Regions from separate parts of the Homo sapiens genome. Here region 1 is linked to region 2. Evidence: fine-mapped expression QTL. Tissue or cell type: whole blood. Region 2 holds a variant in brackets; the other region holds the start of a gene. All regions are shown on one strand. Distances are between the middles of the regions.

What was found. PIP is the estimated chance that this variant, and not a neighbour inherited with it, causes the effect.
Region 1: it holds the start of KRT77, and the variant in region 2 is fine-mapped to the expression of KRT77 in whole blood (INTERVAL, PIP above 0.99).

What each region holds. Positions count from the first base shown.
Region 1 is chr12:52,698,629-52,706,807 of GRCh38, forward strand. It overlaps KRT77 (keratin 77), which reads right to left and starts at 4,896. Exons shown (of 9, transcript NM_175078.3): 1 at 4,264-4,896. The coding sequence starts at 4,806. RefSeq lists an enhancer at 2,969-3,138.
Region 2 is chr12:52,657,782-52,665,960 of GRCh38, forward strand. No RefSeq gene overlaps it. Among named protein-coding and RNA genes, the nearest start is that of KRT2, 9.7 kb to the left of the region's middle. The variant A/C (reference allele first, on the strand shown) is at 3,328.

The DNA.
Region 1 (8,179 bases), 41 kb after region 2:
GATATGGAGGTAAGATGCGGGGCCCAGGGAGGCGGCTGGCTGTGCAAAGTGTGCGGCTTGTCCTTGGCATGGTAATGACCAGCCTCCACCTTTCCTCAGCCAGGTAGACACTGTGGAGCCTCTGCTCCAGTGCCCTGATAGCAGCAGTGATGCTGCCTCCAGACTTTGCTCGGCCGCATGCAGGCGCACACGCCCAAAAACACACACCCTCCAGAATCCTGCTTCCTCCTCTGGGCACCATGTAAAGGGGCAAACCCACTGCTTTGTGTGGTCAGAACGGAACCCTGAAGACACTCCCCTACCACGTGACACTAGTGAGGGTCCTCCAAATCCCCCGGCCCTTGAGACTCCGCCCCTCTGAGGGGCCAACCCTGGTTAGCTCCCTTTGGATTCTGACTCTAGGCTGGAAAATGTTTGCAGACAACACAACCTCCCATGGCTCATTTTTGCTCACCTTATCAAAGCAAGAGATTAGGCAAGCAGCTCTCCCAGGCTTGTCAGCACAGCTCACAACACCGTGAGAAATTCCTGCCACTCTCTATTTTTACTCTGTGGTGGCACTCCCAGGGAGTGAAGAAATCAATTCAGGACTCATTCACTGCACTCAGTGGCAGTGGCATTGTGGGGACCAAAAGAAAGAATCCTGTGGTCCCATGGAGAGTCTCCACATAAAACAATGAGGGAGCAGTGACACAACTCTGGGTGCTCTGGCTTTAGCCCAGGTACCCATCCGCAATATCCAGGAGCTCATAGAAGACACTGTGGTTCTCATCAGGCCACCCAAACTGCAAAGGCAGAGTCTGGATGCAGGGAGTGCCTTAACCACTAGAACAATCAGTAAAAGCCACTGTGTTTTTCCCCAGGTTCCCCAAAACACTCCTGGTCTGTGTCCCACCAGCAAAACTCAAGGGCAGCTCAGCTAGCACCGATGGAATGAGGCATGCTGCTGAGCAACCTTCTCGCCCACCCTCTGCTTCAGTGCTCCTCCCCTGCACAGGGACCTCCCAGTGCCCTCAGCACCCCAGGTCTCCTCAACTCTTTGCCCAGCAAACTCCTGCTCATCCTTTAGACCTCAGCTGAGGTGGCATCCCACCAGTGTGTCCCCTTTGCAGCCCCTTGTTCCTTGCCTTTCTAGATCTGTTGAGACTTGCAGTCATGTGACAGTGTGTGAGCATCTCTCTCCCGGGCTGCACTGGACCCCATGAGGGCAGGCCTATGTCTACTTTGTTCTCCAGGGGACACAGTGGACCCATGGACACACAATGCCCAACACGGAGAAGACAAAAAGTGTCATGCACTCATGAAGTGCAAAAGGTTTTAGAACTGCCTGCTGGTGTGGGCTATCCAGGCCACTCACCACTCTTAGCATAGAGGTCCAAGGGTCAGCTGATCAAGGCCAGGCCAGTGTCCCAGGGGTAAGAGCTGAAACCCTCCTTTCCTTTCTGAGGCCCTGTCCCCTTGTCATTGGTTCTAGAAAGCCTTTGGCTCCATTTCCACTCTCTGAGCGTCCAGCACTGACCCCTGAGGGGCTGACCCAATTTGTCATCCGGTTTCTATTTATTGAGCAATTCTCATATGTCAGGCACTATTCTGGGTGCTAGGGATTTGGTAATAAAAAAAACAGGCAAAATCCCTGCTTTCCAGGAGTTTGCATTCTATTTAGAGAGATTACTATAAAGAAATAATCATGTAAAAAATACAGTGCCTCAGATGGCTGCAGGGACTATGGAGTCACACAGGGCCGGGGCATAGGAACACTGAAGTGGTGGTCAGGGAAGGCCCCACTGAAACTGTGGCATCTGAGCAAAGACCCACAGAAGGTGAGGGAGGAAGGTGGGCCTCTCTCTCGGGGGAAGAGTTCCATGCAGAGGGAATGGTAGGTGCAAAGACCTTGAGACAGAACTGAGCCTTGGATGCTGGTGAGCAAGAAGAGAGCAGGAGAGGAGGCAGAGGGGCACAGGAGGCTGCAGACAACAATGAGTTGGAAGCCTGGGGGCTGTTTTCCAGGCCTCACTCTGCTTACTAGCCATTGTATCCCGAAAGCTGTTCCACCCAGTGAGGGCAACGTGGCCTGATTCCACAAATGCAAGTGTGGGCTTAGCAGCAGCTGCGGGTTGAAGGGCAAGTAATATAGGGCCTTGTAGGACTTGGGCTTTTCTTTCAGTCGAGACAAGAAGCCACTGGAGGATTCAAATGGAGGAGTGTCGTGACATGCTTTTAAAGGATGGCTCTGCTGTGGTGTCAAGTATAGGCTATACAGGGTCAAGGGTGAAAGCAGGAAGACCAGTTTGGAAAGCAGAGTCAGAAGTCACCTGTCATAGAAGCCTTCTTCCTTCCAGCCAGGCCACAGCCCACCTGGCTGAGAAGCCTCTCCTCATAGTCATCATAGGCCATGCCCTTCGAAGGACAGGAGGCCCAGGTCTCTTGCACCCTAGCCTCTGCCCACTGCCCTATGCCATGCAACTGGACAGACCCTGTTCATGGCAGGGGCCATAATCAGATGAGCCTCAGGAGGTCAGTTGCCAGCGGCCTGTGGTCATTTCCCAGCCCTTTCTCCTCCCTGCTCCTCTCTTGGCCCAGCCGTGACCTCCGAGTAGTGACTCCTTGCTCCAGTGAAACCCTCTAACCCCTGCCTTTGCCTGAAGCGTGGTGATACTCAGCCAAATTTCCCACGCAGCATGATCGGAAGCCACGGGAGCACGCTGCTGTGTTGCGCTCCTCTTCGGCAGCCTCTGGGCCTCAGCACTCTCACCCTCCTCCGCCCGCTCACACACTGTCCCATCCCCAGCATCTGCTCAGATATCAGAGGCCTGCCCTGCCACCCAGTATGGCCTCTAGCCACAGCTACCCTGCAGTCAGGCCACAGGTCAAGCTCTGGCCTCAGCACTGAACTCCCGTGGGGACTGAGGGAAAGTCACTGAGTGTGCAAGCGGCCTTGGTGCTCTGTGGGGCTTCCCACTGCATCCCTGAAGGCAAAGTTCCTCCTGGGGAGGTGCTAGTGGCCGCTGTGCCTCGACCTCCAGACAAAAGGAGATGCTGGAGGGAGGTCTTCACCATGGCGAGTTCTCCAGCCTCTGCTGCTGCTTTGGACCTAATCTGAAGTTTCAACAGGGAACTAGGGACAGGGGCTTCTGTGTCTCCATCTGGCCCATCCTTGGCCCTTGATGAGCCAAAAGGGGAAACTCAGACAGAACCCTACATTGCATGCTATTGACTTTAGCCCCAAGAGATACCCACCACCAGGGCATTCACCATGCCCTGCCTGCTTCTCCTGCCCTGGCTCTGTGGCTTCATCTCCACTTCTCTCCTCCACCCCTTGGTATCCCATTTTCTCCAGGAATTGTAACTGTTTGAAATTCCCTAAACGCGTCACGCTTTCATGCCTCCTGGTCCTTCTGCCTGAAAATCCCCTCTGCCCTGAGAACCCATTTAACTCGTGCTCACTTCGGCAGCACATATACTAAAATTAGAACCCATTTAACTTTTCATCCGCCTTCCAGACTCAGCAAGCAGAGCTCATGACACCCTCCTTTGAGCTACCATGGCCCAGAGAGTACTACCCCTATTGACACACTTCACATACACTGTAGTAATTCTCTCCCCTTTAGACGTGGGCTCCTTGATGGCAGGACCTGTGTCCTAGTCACCTGTAGCACCTGGCACGATGTCTGGCCTATCATAGATTCTTAGAAAATATTTGTGGGCTAGATGGGTGGATGGATGCATGAGTGGATAGTTGAATGGATTGATGGATGAGTGAATGAACAGATGAACACGTGTGTGTGTGTGCATGTGTGTGTGTGTGTGTATAAATGGATTGTGTGGATGGGTGGGTGGATGGATGGATGGACGGAAGGGTGGATAGTTGGGTGGATTGATGAATAAGTGAATGGATGGATGTGTGTGTGTGTGTGTGTGTGTGTGTTTGTGTGTGTGTGTATAAATGGATTGTGTGGATGGGGATGGATAGATGGGTGCATGGGTGGATGGGTGGATGGAAAGTGAATAATTATGAATGAGAATGAGGGTACTACACCATGTATCTGTTGAGTATTTTAACACTGCTTATCTCCTTTCCTGCCAAAAGGAAAAGATGGAATTAAATCCCTGCAAGAAGACAAATTGAAGCCCAAATGGGTAAATGATTTTCTAAGGTCCCAGGTCAAGCTGAAACAGCACGATGTGGTGAGAGGTGGTAAGGTGTAATCTCTCTCAGTCATTTGGTCAGTGACCAATGACCCTCCCTGCCCCTGAGGTGCTCACCTTGTCAATGAAGGAGGCAAACTTGTTGTTGAGAACCATAATCTGCTCCCGCTCCTGGGTCTTGATCCTCTGAATTTCAGGGTCCACCTCCAGGTGAAGTGGCTCTAGGAGGCTCTGGTTAATGGTCACCTCTTGGATGCCCCCAGGAGGACAATAAGGACCAAAGCCCCCAAGCCCAAAATTGCTAGTCCCAAATCCAGCACCCCCAAAACCACCTCCTCCAAAGCCACCAGCCCCGGTGCTGCCAACCCCAAAGCCTCTGCCCCCTCCAAATCCCCCTACTCCCCCACCCTGGCAGAAACCACTGGTGCTCCTCCCCATTAGATTAATGGAGATGCTTCTACTGCCACCCAGATTGTAGAGGCTCCTAGAGCCAAACCCCCTTCCATGGATCCCATATCCACCACCACCACACCTCCCTCGAGCATAACACACAGAACCCACTGCCGGACTCCCACCACCAGAGCCTGCAGAAGAGCTGGTACTATAAACCCGCCTGCTCATTGAACTAAACGCGGACTGAGAACTAAATTGGTGGCTCATGTTTGCTGGAGCATCCAGAGAAGCAGGCAAGAGAAAGAGCCTGGCAGGAAGGAGGCAGAGACCAGAGAGGAAAGGAGCTCTGACTCCTTTGAAAAGATCTGGCTCCGGCTCTATATATATACACACACACACACATTACTGGGCTGGGCACCTTTACAATCCTGAAAGGGGAGTATTAATGTTTAGTTTGCCTGCCAGCAACATCTGTTTAAAACCTCACACCTGTGAGTTGCAGAAATCAGATTGCAGACAAACTTCCCCAACTCGATCATTTATCATTCATCTCTTGCCATTTAGAGATCAGAATGCAAGAATCTCTCAGGATCTCATTGCTGGAAACTTCTATACAGATTCTCCCCAAATCATCAGTTCATCTCTTCCTAAGAAACTCCACCATCGAGTTGTTTGTTTCTGGGATGTGCCTGGGAGATCTGGGGCAAAGTTAGATGGTGTTTAGAGACCTCAGGACCATAGCTGGGACAGAGGTGGAAACACTTTCTGTCACAGCATCGTCCTGGTGGGGCAAAAGTTTTGTTCCAATCTCCCCACACACTGCTTCTGCTCCCTGCAGTTATCATCACCATGAGCACCCAAAATTTTATCACATGGAAGTGCAATATTGTGGTCACTGAGTACAAGTGGAGGCCCACAGATTCTGCCCAAGGTCATTCACATTGTGTGCTGCTTGATAAGCCTCAGACTTCTCAAACACAAAACCACACAAGGTACTTCAGCACCAAAAGTCTGTGGTTATAGATTTGTTGAGCATCTACCAGTACCTAATATTGTCTTCTAGACCAGAAGACAAACCATCCCTAACTATCTCTCTTTCTGTTTTATCATTTCCGGTTCTTTATAGACAATACTTTTGTAAAATAGAATTAAAGGAATTACCTCCTAAAGATAATTTTTTAAAAAAGATATACAAAATGCAAGCCCAAATTTTTTTTATTTTTAGATTCAGCAAACAAAACATTGTTTAACTGCTAAAAATAGCAACAATAATAATAATTTTCTAAATGGTTACTCTCAAATTCTGTGCTTACCACAAGGCAATAGCAAAGCACGGTAGACCAGCACTAATCTGTGCTCACCCTCTGAGAAGCACGTCCCAGACAGCATCCTGGGGAAAAGCTCATTCAGTGAGCATCAGTGTCCGCCAACAAAAAAATGTGCGTTTTCCCTCTGGACTCAAATAGCTGTGGCTTTCATCCAAAATGTAATAATAATTTTTTTAACTTGGGGAAAAACTCTCCAGCCTTAGAAAAATGGCTAAGCGATGGCTTGCCCAATTGGATACAATTATTTTAAATCATCTTGTTGGAGACTCTGCAGCAGAACCGGCAACCACTTGTGATACTATGTACCATATTAAAGGGAAAGGGCAGACTACATGATGGAGTCTGCGCTGTGAACTCATAAGAATTAAGAATGCAGAAGGCCGGGTGCAATAGCTCACTCCTGTAATCCCAGCACTGTGGGAGGCCAAGGCAAGCAGATCACTTGAGCCCAGGAGTTCAAAACCAGCCTGGCCAATATGGCGAAACCCCATCTCTACTGAAAATACAAAAAATTAACCAGGTGTGGTAGCACACTCCTGTAGTCCCAGCTCCCACGGGTCAGGGGGGCTGAGGTAGGAGGATCACTTGAGCCTGGGAGGTCAAGGCTGCAGTGAGCCCTTATCGTGCCACTGCACTCCAGCCTGGGCAAGAGAATGAGACCCTCTCTCAAAAAAAAAAAAAAAAATGCAGATAAGACAGACTTTGTGAGTAACTAGAAAGTGAGTTGATTTATTTAGAGACTGTGGGAGGAGTTTTCCTAGGTTCTTTTGTTTGTTTGCTTATTTTTTTGAGACAGAGTCTTGCACTGTTGCCCTGGCTGGAGTGCAGTGGCACAATCTTGGCTCGCTGCAACCTCTGCCTCCTGGGTTCAAGCGATTCTCCTGTCTCAGCCTCCTGAGTAACTGGGATTGCAGGTGCCTACCACCACGCCTGGCTAATTTTTTGTATTTTTAATAAAGACAGGGTTTCACCATATTGGCCAGCCTGGTCTAGAACTCCTGACCTCAGGTGATCCACCTGCCTCAGCCTCCCAAAGTGCTGGGATTACAGGCGTGAGCTACTGTGCCCGGCTGAATTTTCCTGGTGTTTTAAATGTCCTTTTTCTTTATGTTCATTGCAATAAATATTTTTTGCTCACGCCTTTAATCCCAGCACTTTTGGAAGCCAAGGCAGGCGGATCACCTGAGGTTAGGAGTTCGAGACCAGCCTGACCAACATGGAGAATGCCATCTCTACTAAAAATACAAAAAATTAGCCGGGCATGGTGGCACATCTGTAATCCCAGCCACTTGGGAGGCTGAGGCAGTAGAATCACTTGAACCCAAGAGGCAGAGGTTGTGGTGAGCCGAGATTGCACCATTGCACTCTAGCCTGGGCAACAAGAGTGAAACTCCACCTCAAAAAAAAAAAGAAAGTTGTGGCAGAAATCCCAATAGAGGTGGGGAAGAACAGGTGGTAGAAACAAGAGCACTGTGGGGGCGCCGCAGTGAAAAGTCATCCTGGTACAGGGAAATGCTCCAAGGGCAATTCCAAGCTTCCACACCCTCTTCTCATGAACCTCTGCATTCCGTACATGGTATCTGTTCAGTGGGTCATCCAGGAGACACTGTGTGATAGAGGAGACAATGAGCCTGAAATTTATAGGCAGAAGCTCTGCTGCTTGCTGGTTGTGTCTAGAGCCTCAGACACTTAAGGAACCTAGAGCCTCTCAGACACTTAAGGAACCAAAGTGTCTATTTCTCAAGGATTCAAAGCTATATATAAGTCATGTGGGGAGAAAAAAGCAGAGCACTGGAATCACTAAACAAGCAGAAATAGCTGCTCACAGATCCTGGTGGGATGACAGCTGTCCTGCTTTGCCTAGGATTTTCAGTACTTAAACCAAGATATACCTGGGCAAATCAGAACAGTTGGTCACCCTAGTCCTAGGCACCTATGGTCCACACAGCCATACTCCTAACCCTAAGGTAAGAGAGGGAAGCCAGGGCCTAGCCTCCAGCACAGAGTGACAAGGAGAGAACCAGTAGAAGCAGAGGAAGGAAAGAGAGGTGAAGCTAGGGAAAGGGGTGGGTTCATGTGAGAAAGCTGCCTGAAGACCAGGATTCTGAGTCAGATATCAGAGGAGAGGCAGAAAGAACAGAGCAGGGGGAAGAAGTAGGGGTCTGGCTGAGAAAATGGGGGCTGATAGGAGAAGGGACAGTAAGTACCAGACAGGAAACAGCAGTGGTGTGGCGAACAGATCCTTGAGTTGGGCATCTTGAAACCCAGCTCTGACTCCTGGCTCCGCCCCCTCCTAGCCCCATGGCTGGGAC
Region 2 (8,179 bases):
AATAGCTAAAGCCCTGAGAGCAGATGCAAACTCTGGGAAAGCGTAGAGACAAAATGTGCAGACACAGACCCTGCTTTCGGTTATTTTCTCACCAAGAGATGAAGGAAGAAATGGCAGCAGTAAAGTAGACAAAGGGAAGCCAGAGAGGAGAGAGAAGGGCAAACAGGTACGCTGCAGCTGAATAGGAGGGTTTGCCATCAGGCAGGAGCTGCCATCAGTCAGGGCCCAAAAGGCACGAGTTCATTATATCTTGATTCCCCAACTGTAAGCTCCTTAGGGGCTTATATCTCTTGTTTTTCTCAAGGATACCAAGAAGTAGAGTAGATCCATAAATAACTGTCTCTTTGAAATAACCTCTCACCATTTCCAAAAGCTAAACAAAGTTTCTCAGATCCTGGTCCGTTGCTTCTCCTTTAATTCTTTCTCTTCCCTTGGGCTCGGCATACCCGGGGCAGGCAGAACCTTACCTCCTCTTCTGGAGCTCCATGTCAAGCACTAGGGAAAGTTTTGTGGAAAGTTTGCCTGGGTTTGGAGGGGGCTCTGGGTGTGTAAAATCTCCAGGTTCTCTCCCCTCCCTTGGGTGGGCATTGCTTTGCTGCTCCTGGCTCATGCCTAGACACCCTGCCTCGTTTGGGTTTGCATGCTTCAGGCTGTGTCTCTCCCACTCAGATCAAGACCAAAGATGCCAATCTCATTGGCTCTCCAATAAGACCCTTTGGAAGTCTGTATGGTTCTGCATGGACCCGCCTTCCCCACCAGGCCTCCACATGGGCACTCAGCTGGCACTTACACACTACAGCCTATATGCTGGGGGCTTCCCAGGACCCCTCTTTCAGGAGAGGCTCCAGACACCCACTCCTTCTGGTCAGGAGTCCTCTGGAGGCCCATTAATATATCCATGAACTCAGCTCGCTGTCCATATATTGGAAGACCAGATGTTGCCTGCACTTCTCTCTGTACAGGGATTAACTCCATGCCATTCATACTATTAGGGAGAAATAAGGTTTTTCTGGTAAGGAAAAGAGAGGTGATAGTGACAGAATTTTAGAATGGGGACATGATGGCAGGCTTGTCTGGGCAAATCCATGAAACCAGATTACTGCCAACATTTTCCACTGCCTGGTCCTGTGCAGACACTAATCATCAAGACACACGCAGAGGCCTTTGCAGTGTCTGATGTTCTGGGTTTCTGCTCAGGCCCAAAGGGGTAGAGACGTGAGTGGGCAAGCACAAAAGAGGGGAGGGCTGCTGTGGGGGTGGCGGTGGGCCAAGGAGGAGTTGGCAGGGGCAGTATAGTAGACTATCATACTGAATGTGAGGAAAAGGGGATCCTCCCTCCTCCCATGTCCCAGGGAGTTCATGTCACCCACTAGAAAGGCCAGGGAACGTGAGGATCCTTCCCCACCACTCGGAGTGTGAATACAATGGGCAGCCTCTTCGGTGTGGCATTGCCAAGACAGCAGAGAACTATCTGGGGCCTTGTTAATACCCAGTTTCAGAGGCCCTCATCCTGCTCTCTCTGGGGACAGAGGCATGGACACAGACTGCCATGTGTGGTACTGAGCCCAGATACAGCCAGAGCAGGAAGGTTGGGCAGGGGGCCCTTGCCCTGCCTATACCCAGGATCCCTGCACTCAGGCAGTGGGCAGTGAAGGGTAAATGGAGGAGGTGGGCTGAGGACTTGCCATCCGCATAGTACAGGAGTCCCCAGCCTCCCTGGGGACGAGATCTTGGCAGTGTGGGAAGGCTGGGGGACAGAGAGCTTGGCCTCCTGGGGGCTGTTTAAGGGAAGACACCTGGCGGGAGCCACCAAGAGAGTGAATCTGCCTGGAAGGAAGGAGGGGAGCCAGTAAGGAAGCACAAAATGCGAGCACCCGTCCTGCTGCCAGTCTCTAATGCTGCTGGAAGGCATGGCAGGGCGCCTGCACAGCGTTTTACAGCTCCACACCCTTGGGATTTGATCTCTTATTCACCAGCCACCCTCCTCTAGTTTCCACCTCTGCTTCTCTTCTTCCCTAGACCAGCAGCCAGGAGATCAAGCTCAGCTGGGTCCCAGGAGCCCTCCGCATCTTCCGAACCCTTGCTCTTGCAGGAGCTTTCTAGACTCCCTCACCCACCTAACAGCCTTGTTGCCTGGCATCCTGGCCCTTCTTGGGGACACCTGCTTTCCAAACAGCAAAACAAGGAGCATCATACTAGAGCAGGTTGGCTGTTTACATTACCTTGGGAAAGCAGACTTTGCCTTTGTCCTAAAACCCAAACGATCGTCTGTCAAGGGGTGAGCAGGCTCCCCCTGGTTCCTCTGAGAGCTAGAGGAAAGAGCACTGCCAGGCAAGGGAGGGGCAGGACTGGGGTGAGACCTGATGATGAGGTTGGGAGACGCCAGTTTATGTTTCCTCACTGGTGTTTCAGCAGCAGCGCATGGCACTCAGCTCTTTGCCTGGCATTGATGGGGAGCAGCAGGCCCTGCCAGAGATGACCAGGGTCCCTTCAAAGGACCAGGGGGCACAGCTCCTCATCACTCTCCCCAGGCTGATGGAAGGAAAGAGGACTGAGAAGGAAGCTTCTGAGGCCAGGTTCAAGGCAGACCTGCCCTGCTCTACCCTGGTGGAAAACCCAGGCTTTCCAACACTGGGCTGTTGGGCCCTCTGCCTGTCCCCTGAGTCTTTTCTTTGCCTTCTGTCCTCATATAAAAAGTGACTACAGTATCCCAAGAGAAAACATTGAGAGGGATCTTCTGTTTAGGAAGAAAAGCTGAGTAATGTAATTAAAAGTAATAGCCAAAACCACAATAATTTTTGCACCAACCTAATATCACAATTAATTATCCTTGCATGGTGCCTTGTAACAAGCAAAGGCCGCCTGTGTACTGGTTAAGGACATGGATTTGTCCAACACACCTGGGTTGAATCCCAGCCCCACCACTTATTGGCCTCTTGGCCTTGGAAATGTTACCTACCCTTTTGTGGCCTCCATTTCCTCATCTGTAAAGTGGTGGTAACAGTAGAGTTGACCTTTTAACAACCGAATGGTTAGGGGGCATGACCCCTCTTGCAGTTGAAAATTCAATATAACTTTTGACTACCTAAAAACTTGACTACTATTAGCCTACTGCTCACCAGAGGCCTTATTGATAACATAAGCAGTCAACATATATTTTGTTTGTTTTATATATATGTTATTGCTGTATTCTCACAATAAAGTAAGCTAGAGAAAAGAAAATGTTGTTAAGAAAATCATAAGGAGAGAAAACACGTTTACAGTACTGTACTGTATCTATCAATACCATAAGCTTACATCATGTGTTTGCAAGATGAATTATCTATC[A/C]TGTCAGAAATGGCAGGCAACTGCAGCTGCAGACCTCAATCTACGGTACATATCAAGCAATTCAGCTTTTTTTTTTGTAATGTCATGGTTTTTCTCTGCTTCTTGGGAGCACTTCCAGCATCACTAGTGCCACTCTGCATGGGTCCCATGGTGTTATTCAAGGTTTACTGTAAAGCACTAAACATGATGAAAAATATGCGAGAACCTCCAGAGATCACTTTTTACTGCTATAAGCAATTTACTGGGGGAGCTAATTGCTCTTGTGGAGATGACTAGCATCACACAGTGTTTTAATGGCAATACCTGAGATCACTGAAGTAGCAACAGGAGGTGGCTACAAAATGATTACAGTAGCACATATGTATCACAGTTAATTTTAAGCAGTTATGATTTAATAATGCACCTTTACAGTTGCTTACATTTCTCTTGACTTTGGCACTATGTAGAGTCCGTGTGTGCACACATTTTGATAAATTTTAACTTTTCATAACAGATTTGTGTATATTTTATGGGAGTAAGTGATAAAATAGACTAGTATCTACATATATTTTATGCATTTATGACATGCCTAACTTTTTTTTAATTTTTTTATGTTTCTAGGATACAAGTTCATCTTCAAGTTTTTTCAAATTGTCACAAATCTCCAAAAATTTTTCCAACATATTTACTGAAAAAGAATTCACATATAAGTGGAGTGGTGCAGTTCAAATCTGGGTTGTTCACAGGTCAACAGTAGTACTTCAGAGTTGCTGTGAAATAAGTGATTTATGTGACACAGCACAATTTCTAGCACAAAGCAAATATTTCTCCTTTCGCATTATCTGTAGAAGTTATAGTAAGTGTCTAGAACTTCCAACATTACGTCGATTTTATGTTATTGCCACAATCTCCTAGCCTGCATCTTGCCACCTGATCATGCACCTCTTTCCTTAGCTTACAAGCCCACCCTAACCCTATGCCCTGGAGCTCCCCCGCTGTCTCCGGTCCTGCTCCCAACTGGTGGTCCGCTGCTCCCTGCTCAGGCACTAAGTGGCCATTCATTACAAGGCCAGTGGCCATGGATTTAGGATATAAGCCCTCCCTTCATGAATGGGTATTTCTTTTAAAAGAATGAAGCATAGGACCCCACTTTGGCCCCCAAGGAAGCAGTCCTTCCTGCGTACCCAGGCTGCACCGCTGCTCGTTGGCCCCATCCCACTCCCACCCTTGGGTGCCTTCTCAAGGAAGAGCAGCAGTGCTGATGATCGCTCCCTTCATGTATTACTTCAGGTCCCTGTTGCATGTGTCATTTCACTTTGACACTCTCCCTCTGAAGTAATTAGGGCAAATGTTATCTCATTTCACACATGACCAAACTGAGCCTCTGAGAGAGTGAAGAGACCTGCCTGAGATCACAAGACGAGTGGTGATAAGGCTTGGCCCAACGTACTCAGAAACCACATCCTTCTGGGAGCCCCACTTCTGCCCTCCCCACCCTCATTCACCTAATTCCCTGTTCCCAATGCAAAGATTGAGTGAGAGTGCTCTGCCCTCCTACAGGTTCTCCACCCTACTCTGGTATCTGTGCTAACAGCTCAAAGACATGGTAGAAACCATTGTGGCTGACATCTTCATTTCTAAGATGAAGACACTGAGTTCAGAGCTTGTCAAGGCCTCATGAATAAAGGGTAACAGAGCAGGAGCCCAGCCCCGCAGCTCCTCCACCTCGCCACACCAGCCTGACAGCACTGAATTTCAGAGCCAGAAAAGGCCTCAGGTAGACCAAAGTCAGGGGCTTAATAAATACTGCAGTCAACGCTCAATTACCCATAATAATGGAAAATAGGAAGCAAATAGGAGTTGTGTCCTTTACAACTTCTAAATCTGTCATTGCCACACTTCCCCCAGGGCTGTTAAGGCATCAGACCAACTGCTCCTCCTATTCACATCCCTGCAGATGGCCAGGAAAGGAGCTAATAGGGTGGTTACAGGGGCAAGATGGTCCAATCCTTGTTTTATCAGACTCCTAGTAACCACAGCTTGATGACTGTCCTGCTATAGGACAGACTGCATTTGCCCAGGTCCTGCCAGCTGTGCACCCCTCCATGGTGCCACATGGCAGGTCAGAAGTGCCAATGAGGTGGCATGAGGCTCCTGCCACACCACCTTTCCTCAAAGCCTTATGTCTTCATCATGGAAACCTTGTTTATCCATTACCAAGCCAAGAGAGAGGATTACTGAGAAGAAGGCAGCCAAAAACAGGGCACTCCCTTTGGAACCCAGCGGGGTTTCTCCGATCCCAAGCACACCTTAGTAGTTAGCACAGTGTGAATGAAGACAACCAAATGTTCATCTGTGAATGCTAATAATGAATGGTTACAACTACAGGATCAGCTTGTTCTTCCTTCAGGGACATGGAGGCAGATATCATGTTCTCCATTTGCCTAAAATGCTCTTCCAGCTCCACCAGGTGTAGAACAGAAGGAAATCAACTGTGCTGGCATTAGCAGAAACTTAAGACTGATAACAAGAGGGACTAACCAACTACTCCATTGCATACAGAGTAGGAATGTGGAGGGTAGGAATGTCTGGGTTGTTGGGTCTGGAAAGCTAAGCTAAGAACCTGCCTTGCCACACACTTTCCCACTGTCCATATAATTGAGGTTAATTAAGGACCTAGAGCTAGGGAAGGGGCAAGATGGCCTCACCTCAGACCTTGTCTCATGCACACCTCTGCATGCAGACAGGTGACTACAAGCCAAGATGGAGCTTGCCTCACGGGATCTTCTTCCCAAACAAGAGTTCCCTTGCATTGGAACTGGTAACATCCCCAGGGATCCCACCTACTTCACCCAAATTACCATCAACCCACCCTCCAAGACCCAACTCAACTCAGATGTTCTCTCCCCTTGACTGATGACCCTGGTGTGATGTGGCCCCCTCCTTCCTGTATTCCTCCAGTGCTTACTCTGTCCAGTTCATTGACCAACAAAAACTCACTAATCACTGCAGTAGAATACACATTCTGCTGCATCCTCAGGATGAAAAGGTAAAGAAGACACAGTCCTTGTCCTCAAGAAATTCATTATTCCATAGGCACTCATTTCTGTGGAGTAAATATACCTACCATGGTTGATCTCAAGCAATCAACACGGTGTTACTGAACATGGAGTTAGGAACAAAAGCAGGCAATTGGCTTTCATAAGCTGGTGCGGGAGGGTTCCAGGACACCGCTGGACATCATATGCCAGAAGCAAGGAAACATAAATGGAAAAGTGAGGCAGGAGTCAAGGAAGGAGGAACTATGAACTGGCTTTTAAAGGATGAATTCGAGTCTACACACAGAAAAGGGAGAAAGGAACTCCAGGAAAATGGAGAGACATTTGCAAAGACCTAACAGCATAAACATGTGTAAAAGTTTGGTGTATTTGGAGAATGACAGTACCCTCTCCCCTAAGCCTGACCCAGATGAGAAACTGGTTGACACTCAACCTCTAACAGATGCCCATGACAGGTGTCCTGTGCACGTTCTCAGCCGGGACTCTGATGGCCCTGCCACCTGCCTCCAGCCTGCCTCCATCCAGCTCACCCCAACAGGGCCCGGCCTCTGTCCCATGCAACCTCAGGAGAATCTTCTCTATGTCTGTAGGTGTCTGGGCAAAGGACAGCTGTCTTGAGGAGAAATCATACCAAACAAGGTTTTAAACTAAGGTCAGATGTCCTCATGCATGTTTAATCATCCTGTTCTATATTTGGTGACCTTAAGGACAGGTCTTAAAGAGATGACACCCAGTCTTCTATCCCAAAGGCCACTCGTCCCAAGGGCATAGCTGGCAGCACCTGTCTATGGCTGTGGCTGAATTTCGACGGCCCTTTGCTCATCTCCCTAGTAAAAAGTAAGGCACTTGCTGAAGTCAAGAATCCCAGGGCATCCCTAGAAAGACCTCAGAGGCGAGGCCATCCTGACTTAGCTTTCCCTGTCCAGTTCTCCTAGGACCTACTGTTGTGACATCCACTTTCGCCCCATCAGAAATTCTCCACTGGTGAAGCATGTGATAGACTATATTCCCACCCCACCCAGGGACCCCACTTAGGAGAACTGCTACCCCCTGAGGTCTTTCCTAAGAGATTGGGCCCTAAATCCTCCCAGTCCCTATCCGCTCACCTTGCTAGTTACTTGTCTCGCTAGGTAGGTATGGTCACCAAGGGCCCTCCCTGGCCCAGGATTGGTCAGACATAGCTACTCCTGATGGCCAGTTGAACTCAGCCTGCCAGAGACAGCTCCATTATAACCCCTTTACCGAAGGAAATATGGTCTAGGCAGGTGAAAAGACACCCAGTAGAGCCAATAAATGCACATTTCAGACCTTTGAATGTGCTTTTCTAGGACAACATTCCTCACCCAAGGGGCCCAAAATGAAGGACCCCATGTGTTGTTTTGTTGCGGGATTCTTAACCCATTTTGTCGGAAATAATCAGAAATAAATAAGGCATGCCCCCCACCCACTCACCCATTTAGGACAACACAAATCATTGGAACAGACATACTTGCAGCTACCTATATTATGTTATTAATGCCAGGACACAGGCAGGCAAAATGGGATGGGAACACAAAAGAATGTTTTTTTCCCCACGGGAGAGAGAAGGAGTCACAGAAGTTCTGGCATTTAGCTGGACCTTGAAGAAAATGTTAATGATCAATATTAAAATACATGCTAATAATTATACTTACTTTCTGGTTACAGCTGCATTCATTCATCTTTACGTAGGAAGAGGGTCTAGAATGGAAAGGGAAACTTAATAGTTCTTAGTTGAGGTGAATTTTCTGTTCATTTTAATTTTCTTTCATATGGTTACTATGCTGTTTGTGCAA